7 linked regions of the Homo sapiens genome follow. The protein of the gene in region 3 purifies or fractionates together with the protein of the main gene of each other region. This does not show direct contact. Each region holds a gene or a part of one and is shown on either strand. Other genes may lie near its edges.

The links.
Region 1: the proteins of EDNRB (region 3) and CIP2A purify together in Homo sapiens (affinity purification with mass spectrometry; 2 studies listed by BioGRID and IntAct, with this or other methods). This does not show direct contact.
Region 2: the proteins of EDNRB (region 3) and PDXDC1 purify together in Homo sapiens (affinity purification with mass spectrometry; 2 studies listed by BioGRID and IntAct, with this or other methods). This does not show direct contact.
Region 4: the proteins of EDNRB (region 3) and ARFGEF2 purify together in Homo sapiens (affinity purification with mass spectrometry; 2 studies listed by BioGRID and IntAct, with this or other methods). This does not show direct contact.
Region 5: the proteins of EDNRB (region 3) and EXOC5 purify together in Homo sapiens (affinity purification with mass spectrometry; 2 studies listed by BioGRID and IntAct, with this or other methods). This does not show direct contact.
Region 6: the proteins of EDNRB (region 3) and BTAF1 purify together in Homo sapiens (affinity purification with mass spectrometry; 2 studies listed by BioGRID and IntAct, with this or other methods). This does not show direct contact.
Region 7: the proteins of EDNRB (region 3) and ARFGEF1 purify together in Homo sapiens (affinity purification with mass spectrometry; 2 studies listed by BioGRID and IntAct, with this or other methods). This does not show direct contact.

The regions. Positions count from the first base shown.
Region 1 is NC_000003.12:108,558,439-108,561,938, forward strand, and holds part of CIP2A (protein CIP2A), read right to left. Parts: intron 2,404-3,500; coding exon 2,211-2,403; intron 1,591-2,210; coding exon 1,516-1,590; intron 1,430-1,515; coding exon 1,319-1,429; intron 1-1,318.
Region 2 is NC_000016.10:15,013,026-15,016,525, forward strand, and holds part of PDXDC1 (pyridoxal-dependent decarboxylase domain-containing protein 1), read left to right. Parts: intron 1-3,103; coding exon 3,104-3,188; intron 3,189-3,500.
Region 3 is NC_000013.11:77,908,832-77,912,331, forward strand, and holds part of EDNRB (endothelin receptor type B isoform 1 precursor), read right to left. Parts: intron 1-3,500. UniProt on the Homo sapiens protein: Non-specific receptor for endothelin 1, 2, and 3. Mediates its action by association with G proteins that activate a phosphatidylinositol-calcium second messenger system.
Region 4 is NC_000020.11:48,987,711-48,991,210, reverse strand, and holds part of ARFGEF2 (brefeldin A-inhibited guanine nucleotide-exchange protein 2), read right to left. Parts: intron 2,908-3,500; coding exon 2,823-2,907; intron 2,721-2,822; coding exon 2,549-2,720; intron 1,927-2,548; coding exon 1,775-1,926; intron 1,656-1,774; coding exon 1,527-1,655; intron 172-1,526; coding exon 13-171; intron 1-12. UniProt on the Homo sapiens protein: Promotes guanine-nucleotide exchange on ARF1 and ARF3 and to a lower extent on ARF5 and ARF6. Promotes the activation of ARF1/ARF5/ARF6 through replacement of GDP with GTP. Involved in the regulation of Golgi vesicular transport.
Region 5 is NC_000014.9:57,258,906-57,262,405, forward strand, and holds part of EXOC5 (exocyst complex component 5), read right to left. Parts: intron 1-3,500. UniProt on the Homo sapiens protein: Component of the exocyst complex involved in the docking of exocytic vesicles with fusion sites on the plasma membrane.
Region 6 is NC_000010.11:91,993,270-91,996,769, forward strand, and holds part of BTAF1 (TATA-binding protein-associated factor 172), read left to right. Parts: intron 1-424; coding exon 425-578; intron 579-1,265; coding exon 1,266-1,375; exon of another isoform or gene 1,376-1,388; intron 1,389-3,099; coding exon 3,100-3,301; intron 3,302-3,500. UniProt on the Homo sapiens protein: Regulates transcription in association with TATA binding protein (TBP). Removes TBP from the TATA box in an ATP-dependent manner.
Region 7 is NC_000008.11:67,267,282-67,270,781, forward strand, and holds part of ARFGEF1 (brefeldin A-inhibited guanine nucleotide-exchange protein 1), read right to left. Parts: intron 162-3,500; coding exon 62-161; intron 1-61. UniProt on the Homo sapiens protein: Promotes guanine-nucleotide exchange on ARF1 and ARF3. Promotes the activation of ARF1/ARF3 through replacement of GDP with GTP. Involved in vesicular trafficking.

The sequences.
Region 1 (3,500 bases), on a different chromosome or scaffold from region 3:
CAGTAAGTTCACTCTTAAGGTATACATTATATATGTACATAATACAATGCCAAATTTACTGAGCACCTATTATGTGCCAAGTGCTATGCTAGGGCCTGGAGCTATAGAAGCAGTCTTTGATACCATGAGTGAGGGAAAAAAGAATTTCCACGTGGTTTGAAAAATGTTATTAAGAGATAAGCGTAGGTTTGATACACAGAGGAAGGATCGTCAAACACGTGTGGGAAGGAGACCAGAGTAGGCTTCTGGGTAATGAGGATATTTTAACTGAAATCTGAAGGATTATGAGTTAGGCAGAAGAGAGGAAATGGTGTTCCAGACATGGAAAGTCAAGTGCCACGACAAGGAAATACGAGAATATGTCAAGTTTCAGAAAAAGCAAAGTGGCCTAACATGGCTGACTGCAAAGAATGCGCAGAAATGAAAGATGTGGATTGAGGCCTATATAGTTAGAATCCTTATATGCCAAACTAAAGAATTTTAATGATATTTGAAAGCAATAGCAGCTACTGTGAAAGATACTCAGCACAAGAGGGACAGGATCATTTTACTGCCTTAGAGATCCTTGGGGGAGCGGCTAGGTGAAGGGGGTAGAACCAAGGAAAGATGACTGGCTGTAGAGTATCTGAGAAGAGGGTAGAAGACTACAGGTAGGAAGACTAATTGCTCTGCTATGATTCATACAAAAAATGAAAAGGATCCAGCCTATAACAAATAGTGGTAGAAGCAGAGATAGGGCAGAAAAGAGTAATATTTAGAAGGTAGAATCAACTGGACTTGGTGAATAATTATAGGAGGTAAAAACTGTGATTTCCAGGGTTCTTATTTGTAGAACACTAAAAACAGAAGAGGGAATACATAAGAATAATTTTAAAAAGGGAAGGGTGATTAGTTCATTATTGGTTATGCTGAGTTTGTGGTATTTGCTGTATATTTAAATGGAGCAACATAGGCACATAGTGCTCAGGAAAATGATCTGTGCTTGACATATAAAATTAGGAACATTACTATTTTGGTAACCATTGAAACCACAGAACACATAACTAAAGGAAAAAGGTTTAGAATATAAGTCCCAGAGTCCCCAACACTTAAAGGTACAAAATAAATAACATAGGAAAATAATACAAGGTAGCAAAAAAAAATCAGGTAACGATGTAACCAAAATTAAAGAGGACAGAATTTCAGGAAGAAGGAAGGAGGCATGTCAAATGCTAAGGAGAATTTACTTCAATTAGAGTAACAAATACATAACTAATATTTTGCATGTTTTACTTATTAATTTTTCTACAAATCAGATGTGTCTTTATATTCTACACACCTCTGTTTCAGCTTGAGTTCTTTGACAGCGATGCTGAGCAATCAGTCTATCAGCCTGTGCAAGGGCTAGAGCTTTTGTTTCCAAAAGATCTTGTAGCCTGCTTTCTTTGGACTACAAGAAAACATATCATTAATTTTCATTTTAGGAATACATCTATTAAAGCTTATTACACATTGTTAAAATAAGCTTATACTCACAGCTAATGTGGATAGTTTCATTTCATATACATCCATTATGTCAGATATTCTCACATCACAAATCTGATCCTTTACCTACATTTTAAGAGTAAAAAAACTTAAAATTTTAATAAAATATTTTGACACAATGACAAAATAAATGCCTACTTCAAAACTAAATCATTAAAACTTAATGATGAGTAACAAAATAAAAACAAATGCTACATCAGGTAAGTCACAAATATTTCTTTTTTTTTTTTGAGATGGGTCTCACTGTCACCCAGGTTGGAGTGAAGTGGTATGATCTTGGCTCACTGCAACCTCTGCCTCCTGGGTTCAAGTGATTCTCCTGCCTCAGCCTTCAGAGTAGCTGAGACAACAGGCATGAGCCAACACGTCCAGCTAATTTTTTGTATTTTTAATAGAGACGGGGTTTCGCCATATTGCCCAAGCTGGTCTTGAACTCCTCAGCTCTGGCAATCTACCCTCCTTGGCCTCCCAAAATGCTGGGATTACAGGCGTAAGCCACCGCACCCGGCAAAATGTTGAAATTTTGACTGATTTTTCTTATTTCCAAATTTTCCAGAATATTGTTATTTCTTATATTAAGGTTTCAATAGTGAAATCTGTACCTGACAGTGTTTAGATACACGTTATAATTGGGACTGACATATAGCTAATATGTACCAGGTTATAATTGCTATTTTTTCACTCACCACCATTCCAGACTGAAGTTTCTCTATTAATTCTTCAATATTCAATCCAGGAACACCATCTTTCAAATGAGGAGTTAAACACTTTATTGATGTTGGAAAACTGTGATTTGATGATTGCCAGGGCATTTTTCTGGGTATATGTTCTGTTTCCTGTTGTCTATAGGCATTGTTTGCTGCTATACTTTCTCCAAGTCTGAATGGGAGTCAAAGAAAGGAAAAAAAAATTATACGAAAATAGAAGAAAAGGCAGACTTAGTGCAGAATTAGGGAATTTTTAAGAATGGGTCCTTTTTTTGAATAGAAGTCTTCAAATAATCTTGGAGACCATGATGAAATGAAGTCTTGGGAAATATTCTGAATTTTCCAGAGCACCCACTTTTCTGTTTCTAACCTTTTATAATGACAGCTTCACCTCTGGTTTGGAGGCATTGTAAGACTAGTTTATGAGTGTGGATTATCTGTAATAAGTACAAAGTTATTGGTACTGGTCAGAATAATGTTCTTATCATGGGTGATATCACCTGGCCTTTACGTCCTTAGTCCTTTTCCTTTCTCACTCAGTACATACTTTTCACCAACCTGACTTCCATTCTAACCCTTTAAAATCCTCTCTTTCTCCTACCTCAGGCCTTCATATGAGCTGTTCCTTTATCTGGAACACGCTTTCTACCACAAAACAAAATATTTTTTTCACTTATCTCTTAACTAAAGTGCAAACTGCAAGATGGCAGGCACTCAGCCTAATTTATTATAGGCTGGGCATGGTGGCTCACACCTGTAACCGCAGCACTTTGGGAGGATCACTTGAGTCCAAGAGTTCGAGACAAGCCTGGGCAACCTGGTGAGACCCCTCTATAAAAAAATAAATTAATTAAGCAGTTGTGGTGGCACAAGCCTGTGGTCCCCGCTACTCAGGGGGTTGAGTTGGGAATATCACTTGAGCCCCAGAGGTCGAAGCTGCAGTGAGTCATGATCACACCACTGCACCCCAGTCTGGGTGATAGAGTGAGACCCTGTCTCGAAAACAAACAAGTAAATACACACACACAAAAACCCTACCTACCAATGCATCCATAATATACATTCAGTTTATTAAACGCCCAAGATAATGTCAAATAAGGGCATTAAATAGTAAGCATAAAATGGACATCTGAGATAATGCCCAAAGAGAAAATTATTTACAACACAAATAAGACAGGGAATGCCAAGACACAGTCAAAATGGTGGGAAGGCCTCACACACAGAGGCAGAGGATAAGACTTCCATGTTCAGTGAGGCTGCAGATTCCCC
Region 2 (3,500 bases), on a different chromosome or scaffold from region 3:
TGGGTGTGGTGGTGGGCACCTGTAGTCCTAGCTACTTGGGAGGCCGAGGCAGGAGAATGGCATGAACTCGGGAGGCAGAGGTTGCAGTGAGGTGAGATCGCACCACTGCACTCCAGCCTTGGTGACAGAGTGAGACTCTGTTTCTGTAAAAAATAAATAAGTAAATAAATAAAACTTGCCAGGTGTGGTGGTGGGCACCTGTAGTCCCAGCTACTTGAGAGGCTGAGGCAGGAGAATGGCTTGAACCCGGGAGGCGGAGCTTGCAATGAGCCGAGATTGTGCTACTGCACTTCAGCCTGGGCGACAGAGTGAGACCCTATCTCAAAAAAAAAAGAAAAAAAAAAAAAAAGGCAAAAAACTACAGTGACAGAAGCAGATCAGGATTTTCCAGGGCCAGTGAGGAGTCAGGGAAAGGGTAATTATATTGGGGTTGATGGGATTTGGGGGTTGATGGAAGTATTCTGAATCTTGATTGTGTTGATGGTTACATGCTCTATATATTTGTCAAAACTCATTGGACCGTATACTTACATGAGTGAGTTTTGTTGCATGTAAATCATACTACAATAGGCCGAGCATGAGAGCTCATGCCTGTAGTCCCAGCACTTTGGGAGGCTGAGGCAGGCAGATCACAAGGTCAGGAGTTCAAGACCAGCCTGACCAATGTGGTAAAACCCCATCTCTACTAAAAATGCAAAAATTAGCCAGGTGTGGTGGTGTGCACCTGTAGTCCCAGCTACTTGGGAGGCTGAGGCAGGAAAATCGCTTGAACCTGGGAGGTGGAGGTTGCAGTGAGCCAAGATCGCACCACCGCACTGTAGCCTGGGCGACAGAAAGGGTCTCTGTCTCAAAAAAAAAAAAAAAAAAAAAAATCATACTACAATAAAACTGCTTATTTAGGCCGGGTGCGGTGGCTCATGCATGTAATTCCAGCACTTTGAGAGGCCAAGGCGGGAAGATCACCTGAGGTCAGGAGTTCAAGACCAGCCTGGCCAAAATGGCGAAACCCTGTCTCTACTAAAAATATAAAAATTAGCTGGTTGTGGTGGCAGGCACCTGTAATCCCAGCTACTTAGGAGGCCGAGGCAGGAGAATAGCTTGAACCCAGGAGGCTGAGATTGCAGTGAGCCGAGATTGCGCTGCTGCACTCCGGCCTGGGCAACAGGGTGAGACTCTGTCTCAAAAAAAAAAAAAAAAGACAAAATAGAAAAACCACATAAATATTCACTTTATTGCCAACAGGAAAACCATCACTTCCTGCCTTATTGTTTAAAAACACAAATTCACCCATATTCAATCACATGATAAACTGGAGGGGCTGCAGTTTGCATGTGACTGAGTGACTTGCCAGTGTGATTATGTTGCAGATGTCAGCAGACACATGTCAAGGGTTAGTCACCAGACATTGCCAAGAAATACGAAAAGAGAATCTGCATGCGATCCAGGCACTAACACAGCAGTACGCTTTTATTTTGCTGGAAGAGCCTGTGGCACAGCCCATGCATTGACATTTGATCTTGTTTCAGCTAAACTAAATGTGTCTGTTAAGATTTTTTTTTTTTAATTTGAGGTAGATTTAGGTATGAGGGGAAAAAGTTTTCAGCCCTTTTCCTGGCATAGACCTTACAAAAGAACTACTTTCTTTAGCTGTGTTTGTTGAGGCCGTTGGTGAGTGTTTGAAATCTTTTTAGTTGGCTTACTGCTAACTGGAAATTTAGGACGGTTGGGGGAATGCCTGACTCAACGTTTTAACTAAGCTCTCTCTGAAAAGGGATCTCCCCAGCAAAATCTGTAGTGCAATCAATTACCAAGGGAGCGGCTGAAAGTGCTTAATATGCTTAAGCTGGCTTCAGAATGCATGTTCTGTATTACAAGGAACCTGGGTGGAAACAAAACAAATTCATCTATATGTTTTGTTTGTTTGTTTTTTGAGCTGGAGTCTTGCTTTGTTGCCCAGGCTGGAGTGCAGTGGCACGATCTCGGCTCACTACAAGCTCTGCCTCCCAGGTTCACGCCATTCTCCCGCCTCGGCCCCGCGAGTACCTGGGACTATAGGCGCCCACCACTACACCCGGCTAATTTTGTTTTTGTATTTTTAGTAGAGACGGGATTTCACCGTGTTAGCCAGGATGGTCTCCATCTCCTGACCTTGTGATCCACCCGCCTGGGCCTCCCAGAGTGCTGGGATTACAGATGTGAGCCACTGTGCCCAGCCCACCTATATGATTTTTATAAAGGGCATATCTAAATCAAAATAATCCAGGAAGTGACAATAAAATAAAAAGGTGGAAAAGTTTATCTTGGACAAATGCTGACAAAATGAAAGTACCATAGCCATATTAGTGTGGGATAAAATAGACTTCATATTGATGAAAGATGTAATCTCCTAAAAGAAATAACAGTTATACCTGCTGGGCACGGTGGCTCATGCTTATAATCCCAGCACTTTGGAAGGCCGAGGCAGGTGGATCACGAGGTCAGGAGTTCGAGACCAGCCTGGCCAACGTAGTGAAACCCCGTCTCTACTAAAAATACAAAAAAATTAGCCGGGCGTGGTGGCCACCGCCTGTAATCCCACCTACTTGGGAGGCTGAGGCAAGGAGAATTGCTTGAACCTGGGAGGTGGAGGTTGCAGAGTTGAGATCATGCCACTGCACTCTAGCCTGGGCGACAGTGTGAGACTCCGTCTCAAAAAAAAAAAAAAACAGTTATGAATGCTTGTGAACATAACTTTAAAATATATAAAGGAAAGCTAAAGGAAAAGTCTGATGTAACACAAGTATATATTGACAAACCACAATCTTGGTGGGAGATTTGAATATATTTCTCATGAGTCAGCAGATCAAGTAGATAGAAAATAAGTATATAAAAGAATTCAATGACACAATTAGATACATGTAATAGAGATTACATACTCTTCAAAGCTTGTAATAAGTCAACTCACAAACACTGATTTTAAGTCCTTCCACAAAGAAAATCTCAATAAAATAGGGATATAATAAGTCACTTCCCTCCTAGGGCGATAATGTGTATAAAAGTGTTTAAGGTATAAAGCCTTAGAAAACATTTGTTCCTTTTAATGCCCTGATGTGTTTTATCCTAGGAACGGCAGCAGTAGGACACACAGACAAGATTGGGAGATTGAAAGAACTCTGTGAGCAGTATGGCATATGGCTTCATGTGGAGGGGTAAGCCGGCGGTGAGGCTGGTGGCTCCATTCGGGCCTGCACAGAGTCCTTATGAGGACTGGACATCCAGGCTCTCACTTTGGTGACATTTATCACGAAGGGCTCTTTGGGTCACAGATCACAAAATAACCCAAATTGGCTTAAGCCCAAAGAGATCTTACTGGCTCACATAACTACAAAGAGCAGTGTTATGACTGCCTCAGGCACGACATCAACCAGGATCCAGTGTGTTACTCCCACCTCTGCTCCCCCAGTCACAGGCACTGGGCTTGGTTTCCTCTATCTGTGGACAGATCTTCCTGTTACAGTGCA
Region 3 (3,500 bases):
GCTTCCACATAAATTAAAATTTTAAATCCTGTTTAAAATTCAGTTGAATATATGTTACCTAACATTGATCAAATATGAGCCAGTTGGCAATACTCACATAACTGGCACTGGTTTTCATATCATGATGTCTCATCTAACTGAATAGCTGTTGTTAGTGTTAAGTCCTGCTGGCAATATGGTATCCATTTGACAAAATGATAGCCTATGTTTGTGCTGACCCATTTTACCCTAAGGCTTATACTGCTTCTCTAGAACATTTCTTTTGGATGATAAACACAAATAAATAAACACTAGATTGAAAAAAGGTGTGGCCATACTGGCTAAAAGATTTCTACTCAAGAAAGACCGTGATTTTATAACTTTACCTTGGAACAGCTGCTTGAGAAAGAAACAAGGCAAGAGAATCCAAATAAATTATTCTATTACATTATAAAGTCATTTTGATATTATAGTTTAAAATTTTTCTAAAAGGATAAATAGCATGAATAAGAAACAAATATTCTTTACTTATTTGAGGGTTTTGTGAAGTGAATCCTACAAAATCTCTCTAACCAGGGGATTTACATGTTTCATTTCTCTTTTTAATTAAAAATCACATACTTGAGATAATAAATGAAGAAAAAAAATCCTGTTAACACACACCCCTGTTAATGCCAAAAGGAGTCAAGCCCCATAAAGTCAGGAAATGTCAAAGTTAACCATCTTGTACAAGCAAATGTTCACTCACCTCATTAAACATAGATAGCATTTTCTTTTTCTACTTTATTAAATTACAAATGTACATTGAGCTTTAACTGTTTATTTGTTTCAGAATATTCTACAACATTTATAATGCCTAGTACAGTGATTGGCACACAGTGGTCACTCATTCAATGTTTGTTAAGTAACGATGAACGGATGAGTGGATGAATGAATTTGATCACACGGCAGAAATCATCTATGACAAAACATTTGTCATGAGCTTTTCAGTTCTCATACTCTACATATATTCTTTAGATAATTGACATGACTGTATATTTACTATTTATATTTTCTAGTACTGATGATCAGGTCTTCTTGGCACATAGAGTCAGAAACTCTAGAATTGAGGCTTGAGAGTGGGCTGGACTCTTGTTGGAGTTCTGCTCTTCCATGCAGGGCGGAAAAGGTAACGACAAAAATTCCTCTCCCACCCTCTCTCTCCTACTCAAACTTGTCAAGGCAATGACTGATACAAAACAGAACCTACTGTTTCTCACTATGTAATGGGAGTCTATGAAGAGCTTCAGCTGTGGAGAGGATTGTTAAGTTTCGTGGAAGTAGATGCAGTAAACATAGGAGCATTGTAAGAGATGATTGTTTTAGAGGATGAGTGAGTGGTGTAATTAAGAGGACAACCAAGATTACTTTGCCAGACTGCAGTCTATTCCATCCTGTGATAAGTTGTGAACGTTTCTTTAAACGACTGGCATTATATAAATGTTTTCACAGTAAGAGTCAAAAAAGGAAAATAATGGAATGGCTGCATTTCACAACTTTAGGAAAGGGTGTATTCTGTTTTTGTCTCTGTTTCCTGTAGTAGTTAAGAGTTTTTCTGTGTTTGAACTAGAGTTTTAATGAGATAGGGCACCTTCACTAAAGGACTTCCATGCCAGAACTCTTTCTGTATTAATACACAAAGAAATAGTTCAAAGTAAGCTTTGAATTTGGAGTCAATATGCTGATCAAGTGCATGGAAATATTTTCTTCTTGACATACAGTGCACCGTGCCCTGAAGGACAAATATAAATTACAAGTTCTACCCTGCATCCATCAGAATGCCCTTAATCACTTAAAGATTAGCCTATGTGAGTTAGAAATATGTGGGTCAGAAATAATGTTAGCTTATCCCCCAGGGGTGCCATCTCAATAGATTACAATAAGTACAGTGCCCCCTAGAGTTGTGCAAGGCAGCGGTTCTGTCCATGGGAATCTATTTCACACACATCCACAAAACAGAGGCCTTTTCACAGCTCTGGAAAGATTCCTCTAACTTGCTGAAATAGAACAATGGCTTATGAAAATGAATTAAAGTTCTTGAAACAAAATCTCTAAGAGAAACATAGAGATAGAAAACAATTTTTTAAAAATATTTCTTAAGAGAAATTGAAGTTTACCTCAAATATATTTTCCTACCAGAAATTTATTTCTGAGTCTGTAACAGGCCAGGAAAGAAATTGATTGTACTCTTTTATTATCTAAATTTAAAAATATATCCATAGTTTGAGCTTTAAAACTATCACCGACATATTACATATTTTGAAAAGATCCAACTAAGGGAAATAACAAACCCCATTCACAAACCTGGCCTATTATTAGTTCACTTATCTGAGCTGGATCTTCTAAGATCACTGGTGATATCTGAAGACACAGAAGAATGAGAACCTGAGGGCCTCCTGGCTCAGAACGAGACTTGCAAACTACATGAATTCAACAAACCTTATTAAGTAACTTCATGCCATACCTAAGCCTAATTCTATCTGTGGAATATCTTATGGGAGACTAATAAGCTGTGATCAGAAAATGTCTGATTACTATGGAATCTGAAAGCTCATTAAAATAGGCTGAACACACTGAGTGAGTGGGAAGAAGACAGCGTACAGTGTAAACATTCTGAGGATAGTTTTCCTCCTTTCTGGAAACTACAATGAAACTGAAGAAGACAGAAGTGGGGAAAAGACACAGGTCAGCAGGCATGAGTGCAGTTTTGAGCCTCAAAAGGGGAGACTTGCTTGAGAAATGCTTCAATCAATTTTGCTAATAAATTTCTGATTCAAGAATGATCCTCTTCTATCTTCTCCCTTCACGCCTTCTCCTCTCTCTCTCCCTCTCTCCCATCCACCACCACATTTTGGCCATTTTCTTGTTCCTTTACATTTTCACCAGAGGCCCTACAGGGAAGGATAAATAACTCTCTAAAATAAAAGCCTTGGAAATAATAAAAAGTCTAAAATTAGAGAAGTTGTTGGCTAAGGTATACCCACACACCACATTCAGCTATCTCCCAAACATAACCAACTTCTTTTTAACTGTGCAAAGTCCTGAAAGAGAATGTTTCACATCATAAATTACATCTTGAATCTTATTTCAGCTCAGGCTTTATCTGTCAACACCCTTTAAAGAACTTAATCATTTATTAGCATTTGGCATGTTTCTCTAAAAATAATCAACTATAGCATATTAGCTACACAGAGATACCCTTATATGGTTTTCTTTGTGAATTGAAGAACATGGCTCCCTGGCCTGGAGACAACAGGGTCTTGGCTACGTTATCCTTTTGTACAACTATGGAAATATCTTCAATCTTGAAAGACTCATTTTAAATGAGCAAACTGAGAAATGTAAACCTTTTGATAGATAAGCCTTACCATATTGAAAGAAAACCTTACCTTGACATTTGTAGAGGCTTGGATTTACGGAGTGACCAAGTGGCAGATCAAAGGCACACACAAGAAATACCATCAAATTGAACCTAGGGAACC
Region 4 (3,500 bases), on a different chromosome or scaffold from region 3:
AGAGACACGTACCTCATGCCAGGAATTCCCAAGGTAGTTGCCATCGGTGTGAGCCACTGTGATAAGCGTCTTAATGGTGTCGATGTTTTTCTGCTTCATTTCTGTGATGCTGGAGCTGGCTGTGAGTAGGGAGAAGCGAGCAAGAGCCTGAACATAGGCATCTCGTTCCAGCTGTAACAGAAACCCAAGAGAGAACACTGTGACTCCAACCTTAGTGTGGCCATTCTCACATCTGCAGGGCTGGCACACTGGGCTTCTCTGATACTTTTTGTATGCACATTGACTGGCTTTCTGCACATTAGCACAACAGTTATTCCATGCTAATGCCCTCTTGCTTTTGGAACATCTTGCAGAGGTATCTATGCACTGCCACATGTTTGAGAAGCAGCTCTCTCCTTTCTAATTGACTTCAGTCAAACTCACCTGTCCCATGTTCCACTATGTCTGTTGAATACTAAGACTGTCACACAAATTGACATCTGCAACAATTCTGCCAGGCAGGTCTGTTTTCTCAAGTTTACAAATGAGGAAATGAATTGGTGTCTCAGAGAGACTTTAGCTGAGCCAATGTCACATGGTTGGAGAGGTGGCAGAGTGGGGTCTTGAAACCTAGATGGTCTAACGTCAAAGCTTGTGGTCTTGGTATAAAAGAAAATGTCTAACTGTAAAATGAATAGGAACAGAAGATTGAGTTTTTAAAAATAAATGGGGTGCAACTTCTGACTTACAAAGTGATGCATGGGATTGTCAACCTCCTAATTTCGTAACAGTTTCAGAATTACATTTCATTTATTTGCTTGAACTTTTCAAGTTTCAAAGGTTTACAGACATATTCATATTGCATTGAACTACTTGTTTCTCCAGGGAAGAGTTGGAAATATGCGAAATTATAATAAAAACTGATGTTAAAAAGGAAATAGTATTTTTAAGCACCAAAGCAGGCAAGTTAGGCAGATGAACACGAAGTCTGCTTTGTCAAATCCAGTCAAGAAGCTTGGACCCTACCTATTATTATTATTATTATTTTCTTTGAGATGGAGTTTCGTTCTTGTCACCCAGGCTGGAGTAAAATGGCGCGATCTCGGCTCACCGCAACCTCCACCTCCTGGGTTCAAGCCGGTCTCCTGCCTCAGCCTCCCGAGTAGCTGGGATTATAGGCATGTACCACCACACCCGGCTAATTTTATATTTTTAGTAGAGATGGGGTTTCTCCATGTTGGTTAGGCTGGTCTCGAACTCCCAACTTCAGGTGATCTGCCTGCCTTGGCCTCCCAAAGTGCTGGGATTACAGGCGTGAGCCACTGTGCCCAGCCTACCCATTCTTAAAGACAGTTTTAATCCGTATCTCCATTTTTGCCCCTAACGAGCTGTCATCACAAAGCTACGGATTTCTTGTCAGTAGGCATAAGTAAGTAGCTTGCTAAGAGTCTTGATTAACTGAAAATTTCTGATAATTTCTAAGTTTTGCCAAATCTAAAAGAGCACAACCCACCAGTATCTCTGGAGTGTTGCTGACTTACACCTACCTGCATTCCAAAGATGCAGGCGATTCGGATTGCACATCGGATGCCTTCCAAACACAAGGAGGCCACTTCAGTGTCATCACAGTTCTGGAGTCCGATGCTGTAGGCTGCCAATAGTGGCGTCCACACCAGCTATCATGGAAGGAAGATTTCAATAACATCCAGAGTTTTAGCGTGGAAAGAGTACTTCTCGCTGGCCAGCTTCAGAATCAGGCTTAGCCACATGCTTGCTAAGTTCTCAGGATACTCACTTTGAACATTGGCCGGACATGGTCCAGGTGAGTGGCACTGGTAAACGGGGCTTTGGCATGGCTCACAGCCTCCATCAGAGCTTTGGCTGTTTTAGCCATTTGCTCCATCTCTAAGTTGTACAGCAGCCGCCGCTGCTTTTCACTAGCTACATCTGTAAAGTAAGAGCATGATAGGTGTGGCTAGCAGTCACTGAGGGCTGGCTACATGCCATACACTGTTTCAAAAGATGCACAATGATTAACTCCTAAATCCTCCCAACCATCTCGTGAGTCCATTACAAATATTATTATTACCATTTTACAGATGGGAAAAATGAGGCAGAGGGGGTAAGTCACTTGCCCAGGGTCATACAATTACTAAGTAGAGGAGCTGGGACTTGATCTAAGGCAGTGTGGCTCTAGAGCCACACTCTAAACCACTACCCTTTGCTGCTTCTCAAACAGTGAAACTGACAGCTCCCCAGGGGCCATAACTAATAGAATTCTAATCAAGGCGGACACAATCTGAATTAAAGAAAAGTTTTAAAGAACACTTTTTGGGAGTAATTTAGTTCTCAGATTACTAATTTTAAATTCCTTCTTGCTCCTCATCAGAAATCTAGCAAGACAGTGACATTATAAAAGTCCCAACATAATCACAATAATTAATTCAATCACATTTCCTATTCAGATATCCAGCTATGCACATTAAATTTATCACCAGAGTATTTAATCATGCATTCTGATACACTAAAAAATTAGAACTAAAAGAAATAATTTGCCATTAGACCTTACTCTGCTTAGTAGATTTGGTTGCAATCGTTAGCTCTTTTGTTTCTTTCATTGCAATTTTCTTGCCTTCTATCTCTTCATAGATGCTTGAGAGATACTCTTCTGGCAGATCTTTACTATCATTGATACCCCGATTCATTTTAATATACTGCTCTTTCGTCATTTTATTTTTTACCTGTAATTAAAAAAAATTAAAAACCATTTAAAAAACATCCAATTGCCCAAGTAAAGCCACTTATTTAGCTAATACAACATGTAAATCATTAAAGTGCTTTACCTGAGGACTGTGCAAGTCTGTAGTCAGCATAATAATTGAATACGCTAGGACATAAGCAGTGTCAGCACTAGCAAACAGAGTTTGCCTGGAGAAAAAAATTCGAGACATCAATATTCATGGTGATGCGGTTTGGAAGGTACAATGCTAACAGAGACACACTTCACGAGAAAAGCAGCCGACTACTCCCCTTGATTCCAAATGAGGCAAGAGTTTTTACGCTTTCATCATCACTGAACAAGACTTAGCAACCCAGAGTGTAGAAAAAGCTCATTAACAATCTGTATCAAATTTTAGCTTCTTTGGCAGGGCGTGGTGGCTCAGGCCTGTAATCCCAGCACTTTGGGAGGCCGAGATGGGTGGATCACCTGAGGTCAGGAGTTCGAGACCAGCCTGGCCAACATGGTGAAACCCAATCTCTACTAAAAATACAAAAATTAGCTGGGCGTGGCAGCGGGTGCCCATAATCCCAGCTATTCGGGAGACTGAGGCAGGAGAATTGCCTGAACCCGGGAGGTGGAGGTTGCAGTGAGCTGAGATTGTGACACTGCACTCCAGCCTGGGTGACAGAGCGAGACTGTCTCAAAAATAAATAAATAAATAATAAAAATTGAGGCTTCTTTGAATAAAGCAATTTCAAATAATTTTTTTTAAAAAGACTCTAAGAAGCATCTGGGGCCA
Region 5 (3,500 bases), on a different chromosome or scaffold from region 3:
TAAAGTAAGTCTCAGATCGTTTCAGAGAGATATTTCTGTATCTTGTTAAACCAACTAACCCATCGGTTCAAAAGTACTGCCTATCATGTATTTTCCTTAAATTTATTATGGATACCACTGTCTAACAAATCATTAAAACACTACCTCCTTTTAGTGAGAAACTTCCCTATATAATTCCTACTACACTATCAAATTCACACACACTTTTCTTTTTTTTTTTTTGAGATACAGTCTCACTCTGTCACCCAGTCTGCAATGCAGTGGTACAATCTCGGCTCCGCCTCCTGGGTTCAAGCAAGTCTCATGTCTCAGCCTCCTGAGTAGCTGGTATTACAAGTGTGCGCCATCACATCCGGCTAATTTTTATATTTTTAGTAGAGATGGGGTTTTGCCATGTTGGCCAGGCTAGTCTCTAACTGCTGGCCTCAAGTGATCTGCCCGCCTCAGTCTCTGGAAATGCTCGGATTACAGGTGTGAGTCACCACATGCAGCCAAGTTCACACTCTTATATCTACCCTTTAGGGTTCTTATCTTGTACCACCTACCCAAATTTCTCTGTACCTCAAAACAAACAGCCACACTTCCGTCAGACTATTCCAGTCTTCTTTTCAAGCCCATGCTACTCCTGCTTCCTAACCTGTGGCCAGGTAACTCACCCCACCAAGTATGGCCTTTCTCCTCCAACAATTCAAACACTGCTATACCATTATTCAAAGCCTGGCTCTATTCCCGTTTCTTCTTTGAAGGGTTCCTTCCTTACATGGTCTCCATTAATTTCTCCACTCTTAAACCCCTATGAAGCTTAAAAATTCAAATCCCAACACAGAACATTACTAATTGTCATTTTGTCATTTATTGATTTAGAATCATTTTCATAAGTTTCACTCTTTTCTCCATACTTAAATTGAAAGCAAGGGGATGCTGTGTCATACATTTCTCTTGCTTTCCAGCTGTAGTCAACAGAACAATGCCGAGCATACCAAAACACTAGCTAGTTGGGGCCATGGCTGAAACCCCTGCAGAGGGTCTTGAAAGTCATGCTCTTGATCCATACATCCAAAACCAAAAAGGCAGGACCACCACCCCACAACCCAGAAATAAAGAACAGGCATTACATGGTACTATCAATCAAAGATTCTAACAGAAACCAAATATGAGCCTAATACAATTCTGGCACTACAAAGAACTAAAAGAATTTTATAATATTCGGCCTCTACTTTCTAACCCCATTTTCTTTGATTTTTCAGTGAGATTCTTTACGTGTTTTCTGTATATTAATAAATAAGTTATATTTATTGAATACTGAGTTTTTAAAAAAGCACCACAAAATATTTTGTCTCAGGCTAGCAAAATGGATTTCAAAGGTAGTATGAAAAGGTAGAAAAATAAAGCTCATTAAGACACTAATATAACTAAAGCAAACTTTGAAAAAGTATTTTGAAAACTACTTGCACAAACACTACAAAATAAATAATTTTACTTTTTAAAATTAGTCAATGTTAACATTCAATCTTGAAGCCCTTTAAACTATGAAATTAGCCAATTAATCATGTTATCAAAATTGTTTTGAAGACTATTTAAACGATGGTAGTTTAGAATCTTACAAAATATTTTAGATTCTCTTAAGCAAAATATTTTTCCAGGATAGAATATATCTCATTTCGAACAGTAAAGTTATATATATTATGTCTATGTCCAAAAGGGAAAGGTAACAAATGTTACAATTCCTGTTACACTAGTCTCAGCAGAATCATATAATTAGATTTAAAATTCGTAATGCAAGAATGTTCTTTAAATATCATCACAGCCCAGCTCTTTCATCTCATTTTTATAAATAAAGAAACTGAGGAAATGAAATTTAAGTCTTATCAAGGTACTAAACCAGGATTCTAACCCAGATATTTTTCCCACTCTATTATAGTGCCTTTAACATTTATAGACTGTGAAATTACTTTAAATATTTAATAAAATCTGCCATTAGCATTTCAAATCAAATTAAGTGTATTGCCAAATACACACGTTAAATATTCTTACAGGCATTTAATAGACACCTTGGAAATGAAATTAAACAAGTGAAAGAATCATTTGCTTCTTTCGTTTATTATAACTTGAATAAGCAAAGATATGTAAATAACTATATTTTCTCATTTTCAAATTTCGGCTTCAAGGAAGTAACATCAGAAAAGTTTGCTAAGTTTTAAAAATATATATATACATAAACTATTGACAATCAAACTTTTAAATTATTTATCACTCAACTAGAACTTTCGTTTAATTTGTAGGTTATGTTTATTTGCACGGTGTTACATGAAATTGCAATCCACTTTTAAGAGAACAAGGCAATCAATCACTCTTTCAAATCTCTCTCACACATGTGGGCACACACACACCTCAACTATCTAATTTCCTGGGAACACCAGGGACTCAGTATTTTAGATTAATTACACACATGTGCAGTCTATAATACTGTCCTCAATTTAATGACTTGCTTATTCCAAAAGTTCACTTCCAAGTTGCTTGGACTGGAGAACTCCAAAGCATAAAATACTTAAATGGAACTCTATTACTCTTAAGCATCAACCTCTACCTCTACCACTGTCTCCACTAAGACCAGCAGAAGGCTATTAGATCTTGGTGCAGGTAAGAAATTGATCGGCCTCTGTTACAGTTATCTATTGCTGCCTAACAACCACTCAAATAGTTAGTGGCCTAAAATAACAATAATCATACTGTTCACAAATCTGATTGGAGGAGGGCTCAGCAGGGAAACCTGGTCTCTGCTCCACATGAAATAAGCTGGGGCTGCTCAACTTGGCTAGAAGATAGTCTTCCAAGATGGCAAGTTGGTGTTTACTGTTAGCTGGGAGTTCAGCCAGAGCCAAGGGCAAAGGGCCTTGGTTCTTTCAAAGGGCTGCATGGGCTTTCTCTTGGCATGGCTGCTAGAGTCCAAGAGGTTACCTAACCTTGCAAATCACTACATAGCATCACTTCTATAGTCATAGGCCTGTACAGATTCAAGAAGTGAACACAGAACCTACTTCCTATGGGAGGGGCATAAACATCACAATGTAGGATGGCAGATCTTGTGACCATCCTGAAAAATACAACCTTCCACAGCCCCTTTTTGTAATCCTCTCCTACTATAATCTCCTACTTCTTGGATCATTTACTCTGAGTCAACTGAGACTGAGAAGGCTGAAGTGTTCCCTCCCTGATAGATCTCTAATCTAGTTCTCATCTCAATCCACTTAAATTGAAAGTGGCCAACACCTAATTTTTTAAAATGGATACTACTCTCTTAATAGTATGCTTCTAAGCAATTTAAATTTCTCAACTCAATTTAGTCATCAAAAAAACCTTCTGAAGTAGATACCATTATTTCCCCCATTTTACAGATGAGAAAACTGAGGTACAAAGAGGTTGGGTAACTTGCCAAGATCACACAACTAGTAAGAGGCAGAGCTGAGAGATGTCTTCCACCTCCTGGCTAAATTACCACC
Region 6 (3,500 bases), on a different chromosome or scaffold from region 3:
TTAATCTTGGGGTTAGCTTAAACAGATGATCTTGTACTATCCCTTAAGTGAATGTAAATAAGGACACATCACTTCATCTATCTTCTCTCTAGCTGACAAGTTTCTTTGAGGTAGAGAGAAGGAGGAAAAAAAATGTCACTTAGGACTATCTCTAGAAACAGCACATATCCGTCTGTTCCTTATCCTCAACCCCAAAAAAGTGTTTTACTTTGGTCACAAAAATCTAGTTAGGTGTTGTAGGCCCCTGTAAATTTAATTATTGGGAAATGTTTATAATTGAGACAAACATGTCTAATAATTGCTTACTTGGTTAATGATAACATTATGAATTCTTAGATGGTGACTTTTAAATTCTTTTGTTAAAATTTTAAATGTATTATGATTTTTTCTGAAATTCTGTTTTTATCTAACATTTAATTTTAAGGCCCAGAAGCCTTACCTGGTACAACGGAGAGGAGCTGAATTTGCTTTGACAACTATAGTAAAGCATTTTGGTGGTGAAATGGCAGTGAAGTTGCCACATCTCTGGGATGCTATGGTTGGCCCATTGAGGAATACAATCGACATAAATAATTTTGGTATACACATATTTTTATGAGTCCAGTTTTTAACAAATTTTAATGTCTATTAATTGAATATATCCTTATAAAATAAAAATGCCTCTATGCCTCTACCTGTTTATTCCAGACCAGCTGGTAAGTTTTAAAATGGAAACTTGGTTTAAAAAAAACACACACCTTTATTTTATAAAAGAGATATTTGGGTTGGGCATGGTGGCTCATGCCTGTAATCCCAGCACTTTGGGAGGCCCAGGTGGGCAGATCACTTGAGGTCAGGAGTTTGAGACCAACCTGGCCAACATGGCAAAACCCCATCTCTAGCAAAAATACAAAAATTAGCTGGGCGTGTAGTCCCAGCTACTCTGGAGGCTGAGGCAGGAGGATTGCTTGAACCCTGGGGGTGGAGGTTGCAGTGAGCCGAGATTATGCCACTGCACTGCAGCCTGGATGACAGAGCGAGACTCTGTCTCAAAAAAAAAAAAAATTGTTTTTAAAGAGATACTTGAAATGGATCACTATGTTTAAGTTCTTTGGTTGCTCTACATGTAGTACCCCAGCACTTAAATTAAGGTCATGGCATTTAATTTTAACACTAAGAAGCAAAATTGACTCTCCTATGCTAGCTGAAAAAGTGCTAAAAGTTTTTGTGTGCTCTAGATTTTGAAAAATTATTTGCCAGATAATACAGACAATATATTTTAACAGATGGAAAATCCCTCCTGGATAAGGGAGATAGCCCTGCTCAAGAATTGGTGAATTCTCTGCAGGTTTTTGAAACAGCAGCAGCTTCAATGGATTCTGAGCTTCATCCCTTGGTAACTAACTAATGCAAGTGTAATATTTCTTCAAATAAAACAAGTGGTCTTATTAAAAAGTCTTAAGGTTTGAAAGGTACAGCTTTGATGTCATCCTTATTAATTGCATTTTTCTTTGCTGTGGTATAACTAGATTCCTCCTTTACTAACAGTGCAACTCCTGTGGGCTTTGATGTAGACCAGGCTGCTTGAATTTAATAGAAAACCCAACCTGGAAGCTTAGAATGTGGGGGCATTGAGGAAAGGACTCTGATGACACAGGAGCCAGATGTAAATAGGAAAGAAAACTGCAGCCCTGTTCATCCAGATGATCCTAATAATACAGCTCCAAGAAAGGAAAAGCATATATAATGAAATCTGTTTCCTAGATAAGTACAAAGGTGAAAGGAGTCACCTGCCTAAGGTGAAGCTGGTCAGTGGCAAAGATAGAACACTGGTTTGGGATTTTTTTAAAAAACTATTAAAATGTTTCTTACAAAAGAATTAGGACAGAGGGAGGAGGAAAATAGAGAATTATCTGGTTTTTTTCATAGAAGAATATTATTCTTTTCATATCTCTGCAATAGGAAGCTGTCTGCAATTTACCCCATTTTGAAGGGTATTAGCCCAGTTCTCTATTGTTATTTAACACAAAAGGGAGAATCTATGAGAGGGTGGAGAAGAATGGATTTTTTTTTTTGTACATAGTAATAAAGTATGTCCTTTTACTTGTTAAAAGTTTTGCTGATTTACTGTTAGTAAAGAAAAGTAGGCCGGGCGTGGTGGCTTACACCTGTAATCCCAGCACTTTGGGAGGCCGAGGTGGGTGAATCACGAGGTCAGGAGTTCAAGACCAGCCTGGCCAATATGGTGAAACCCCCATCTCTACTAAAAATACAAAAATTAGCCGGGCGTGATGGGACATGCCTGTAGTCCCAGGTACTTGGGAGGCTGAGGCAGGAGAATCACTGGAACCCGGGAGGCAGAGGTTGCAGTGAGCCAAGATCGCGCCACTGCACTCTAGCCTAGGCGACAGAGCGAGACTCAGTCTCAAAAAAAAAAAGAAGGAAAAAAAAAAGTAGAGTCCATCTGTACGCTCTTAATCTTCATAATTAGCAACATGCATTCAGCTGAACTGTAAGGCACATCAAACTGTTGAACAGATACCTGGCTCTCATCAGCATTAATTCTGGTGTTCCTTGTAGCAGACATTTAGTAAGGTGCTGTTGTGATGCTGTTGTGATTATAACACCTATGGTAAGCCAGGAAGCTACAGTGGACGATACCTACCAAAGTATGGTGCTAGAATAAAATCAGGAACACTCAAGCCACTGAATAAAAATTATGTACCTAAATCTAAATTAGTGCTACCAAATTTGGAGGGAGCTGGTGATGTGTGGTGCTGTTTTCCAGCTTCAGTAGGAGAATCTTGCCAAGTACTTTTTGGTTTGTTTCCTGTTAATTTTGGAAAGAATTGAGTGTTCCTATATGCCTAAGAGATGATATGAGCAGAGCAGAGGTTCTATACCTTTTTTTCCCTTCTTTTTGAAAGAGTTGTAATACATTAATTTGTATTTGGATTAGTTTTCTATTGAGAATGTTTTGGCAGTAATGTTTTGAAGTATTTGGAGATATTTTTAGAGTCACTTAGAATATTGAAAACTTTCCTGAGTATGGGCTATTATAGTTACATATTAAACAGTATTTCCTAATAATTCTAATTGCCATTAACTTTTTGTTTTTAGTTGGTCCAGCATTTGCCACATCTTTATATGTGCCTTCAATACCCCAGTACTGCAGTGAGGCACATGGCTGCTCGTTGTGTAGGTGTCATGAGCAAAATAGCTACCATGGAAACAATGAATATTTTTTTGGAGAAGGTTCTTCCGTGGCTGGGAGCAATTGATGACAGTGTCAAACAAGAGGGTGCAATTGAAGCACTTGCCTGTATCCTTTTTCATTTGACAAACTGTTCAGGAATTATATTCATTTCACTTAAGGATAATTAAAATGAAATTGATGTGTTCTAATATGCACATAAATAACCTGCCTTGTTCCAAAAAATACCTATTCTTTTTACATCTTATTTTGAAATATTTTTGTATTTTATTACAAATGTGTTACAAACTGATTTGCATTTTATGAT
Region 7 (3,500 bases), on a different chromosome or scaffold from region 3:
ATTTGGCCTTTTAAATATCTAATAATAAGAAAGAGATAATAAAAAGGATAATTTAAAATACCTGCACAAATCCTCGTCAGTGTCTGAATAACCATCCATTTGTGATCAAATGAGCTGGTAGAAGTTTCCAAAATGTATAAGAAAATTTCTTTAAAGAACACCTGTGATTAGGAGAAAACTTCTGTTTAAAATATTGTTTAGAATTCATATGTGTGATCACTTTTTAAACATCCCAGAGCTATAGAGCAGGTATTAGGACCCAGGCTCTTATGGAGTTCAACTCCTTTTGAGTTCCATCTCTGAATCCTCAGGACTAAAATATCTTGGGTAAGTGACTTAAACTTGCCCTTCTAGTTATCAGTACTGCAATTCACATTGATGTGTTTTGTTCTCAACACAGCTGCTACAAAAGAAATATGCAAAGATTTAGAGTTCCTCTAGGTGATAATTTCTTTAACATTTTTACAGAATATAACTTACGCTTTTTTAATCCCCCTCCAAAAGCGTAATTTATACTTCTGTTCATCAGTTATATTTTTCAGAGACGTTCTAGTACTGAGAGGCCTAACTGTTCGTAGATTTAAATGTAACTGATACTCTAATCAACACAATAAAAACAATCTAAGTCTCATACGGTTTTATTTTTCTAATTACTCACAAAAGTGAAAATCTCTACTGTTTGAAAACTACATATGAACTATTTCTCACTACTCTTTACACCAAATAATCAAGCAGTGAGTTAATCAACCTAATGAGATAAATTTCAATTTAACAGATAAGAATTTTCAGATTTAAATGTATTCTATAAAAGTGACTTTAAGAAGGAATGACTGAAACAACCAACATATTAACATTTATGAAACATATGCATTATGAACCCAGAAAATCACATTTATAGTATCTCCCCCTAACTGGATTAGGTACCCCTGTAATGTGATTTTCTTTCACAAAACTCAGCATATTTCTATTTACTTGTTTAATATCAGTATCTCCTATAGACTGTAAGCTTGAAGACAGTAATGACCAGGTCTTTCTTGATAAAGATCACGTCCATATTGCAGGGCACATAGTAGGTGTTCAATAAATACTTATGGCAACATGGCCACAATTCCCAAAAACTGCATCAAAGTACCCCAGAATGCTGTAGCAAACTCATGAGGGTGCCCTGAAAAAATTCTGAGGCAAAATTCAGAGGGAGATACATCTGTTGGATACCTCAAAAGATTGCTCATGGTTTCAAATAAATCACACTACATTCCCTTCAATGACATAATTATCTCCGCAAAGCTGGGTTTTGGTAGTTGCTATGATAAAAAACCAAGTACTGAATGAAAATCAATGAAGTACAGGAATGAGGGGGACAGTATTCAATTCCAAGATCTAAGAAGCTGTGTGCAGTTTCTAATAGGCACACGCATCCCAGTGGTAAGTAATTGCGGTAAAGAATAAAATAAAAACATTATTTTTCTTTTACTTTATGCATACTATTGTCTTTGAAATACATAGTAGGCTGTGAAGACAAATATCCATTAAGTTGTTTGGCCCTGCCTGCTTAATAAATAGAACATAGAACTGGAGGTATTCCTCTGGCCAAAGTGCAACTTTCATGAAAAGTCAGACTTGTGAATCAAAAACTTTTGGGATCCTCTGATTGACAAAATAAATAATATAGACTGGAAGAGAGAGGGAAGAAAAAATTTTAGCTACTATCAATGGTTTATCAAATTGCACTAATAAGCAAAAGTCTATTGCTGTAATATAAGATATTATGCCTATCATAATAGGGGCTCTAAAAAAATCAACCTTTTAATAATTTATCGAGGACCTATAATGTATGTATGTGGAACAACAGCTATATCTTAAGTATGCTGTCTTCACATATGTTCTCCTGAAAAGTTGTACATAAACTGTATCTTCTGGAATAGATATATAATTTAAGACCCATGAAAAAATCACATCACAGAAACTCTGAAGTGAATATTCTCATAAAATGAATCTTCATGTAAAAACAATCTTAATTTTGTTTTGCAAATTTAGGTTTTCATAGCTGGGCTTTCTCCACGTTCAGCTTTTTTTTTTTTTTTTTTTGAGATGGAGTTTCGCTCTTGTTGACCAGGCTGGAGTGCAATGGCGCGATCTTAGCTCACTGCAACCTCGGCCTCCCAGGTTCAAGCGATTGTCCTGCCTCTGCTCCCAAGTAGCTGGGATTACAGGCATGCACCACCACACCCGGCTAATTTTGTATTTTTAGTAGAGATGGGGTTTCTCCATGTTGGTCAGGCTAGTCTCGAACTCCTGACCTCAGGTGATCCACCCGCCTCGGCCTCCCAAAGTGCTGGGATTACAGGTGTGAGCCACTGTGCCCGGTGCTCAACTCATTTATAATTTGAGTGTGTATAACATTTTTGAAAGTATATCTATATTTATCTCATTTTACCCTCATTATCGCCCCCTGAGGGACAATAAGGAGTGAAATAAACCTAATTTTTAAAAATTAGAATATTATAATAATTTTGTAATGAGAATCTGACATCTACAAATTGACAAGAAATTTCTTAAAGTTTTTCCTTTCAAATTCATTTTTGCAAAGTTGAATTTGCTGTGCAAAAATAGTAATCTCAACTTAAATAATTTTTGATATCTAGATCTAAGAATTTATATTTTACTGTCGGTAAACAGTACCTACAGAAGCAGAATCTCAGTGTCCAAAAAAATCTGTAATTGGTTACATAAAGTATTACAAAATTTTCTAATGCCAACTTAAATGTCTCATCATCAGATGAAAGACTTCTGGTTTTTTACAAAAGCAAAAGTTCTAAAAGTTTTTTTAACTGTCTTTTATTTATAGTTCCTACAGATAATGGGGAAAAACTATCTAAAAACGGCAACTCTTCCTAGTTAAACGCCTTGTATTATCTTAACAGACATATGGCAAACTCTTAAAACTTGACATCATACATCATATAGGCACCAAAAATGGTTTCCTGTCCAAAAATATGGCCCAAATTAAAAAGCTTTTCACTTAAAATACCAAGGCCTAATTCTGTTTCATTCTCATAACAATGCTCTAAATCAATCTTGATAGCTATTACAGAACATTAACATTAAAGGATAATATGACTATTTTAGCCATTTCGAAATTCTGGAAAAATAATTTATCCTTTCTAACAAGCTAGTGAATTATGAGTCTTGAGTTAGGATTAAATATAAAATTAACAAAAATTAAAATATAACCTGTATATCAAACATAATATGAAGGTAAAAACTGACAACATAAAAATGAGTATTTCAAAACCATACAACATCACAACCAAAACAACATTTCAACAAATAACAAATTGAAAAAAGCATTCATTAAATTGGTAAAACATAAAGTACTATTTTTAAGTTTTATTTGAAGATGAAAACAAAAAATCAGAAACTGGTACACCTTAAAAAAAAAAAAAAAAAAAACCACATAAAGCTGGGCGCAGTGGCTCACACCTATGCTCCCAGCACTT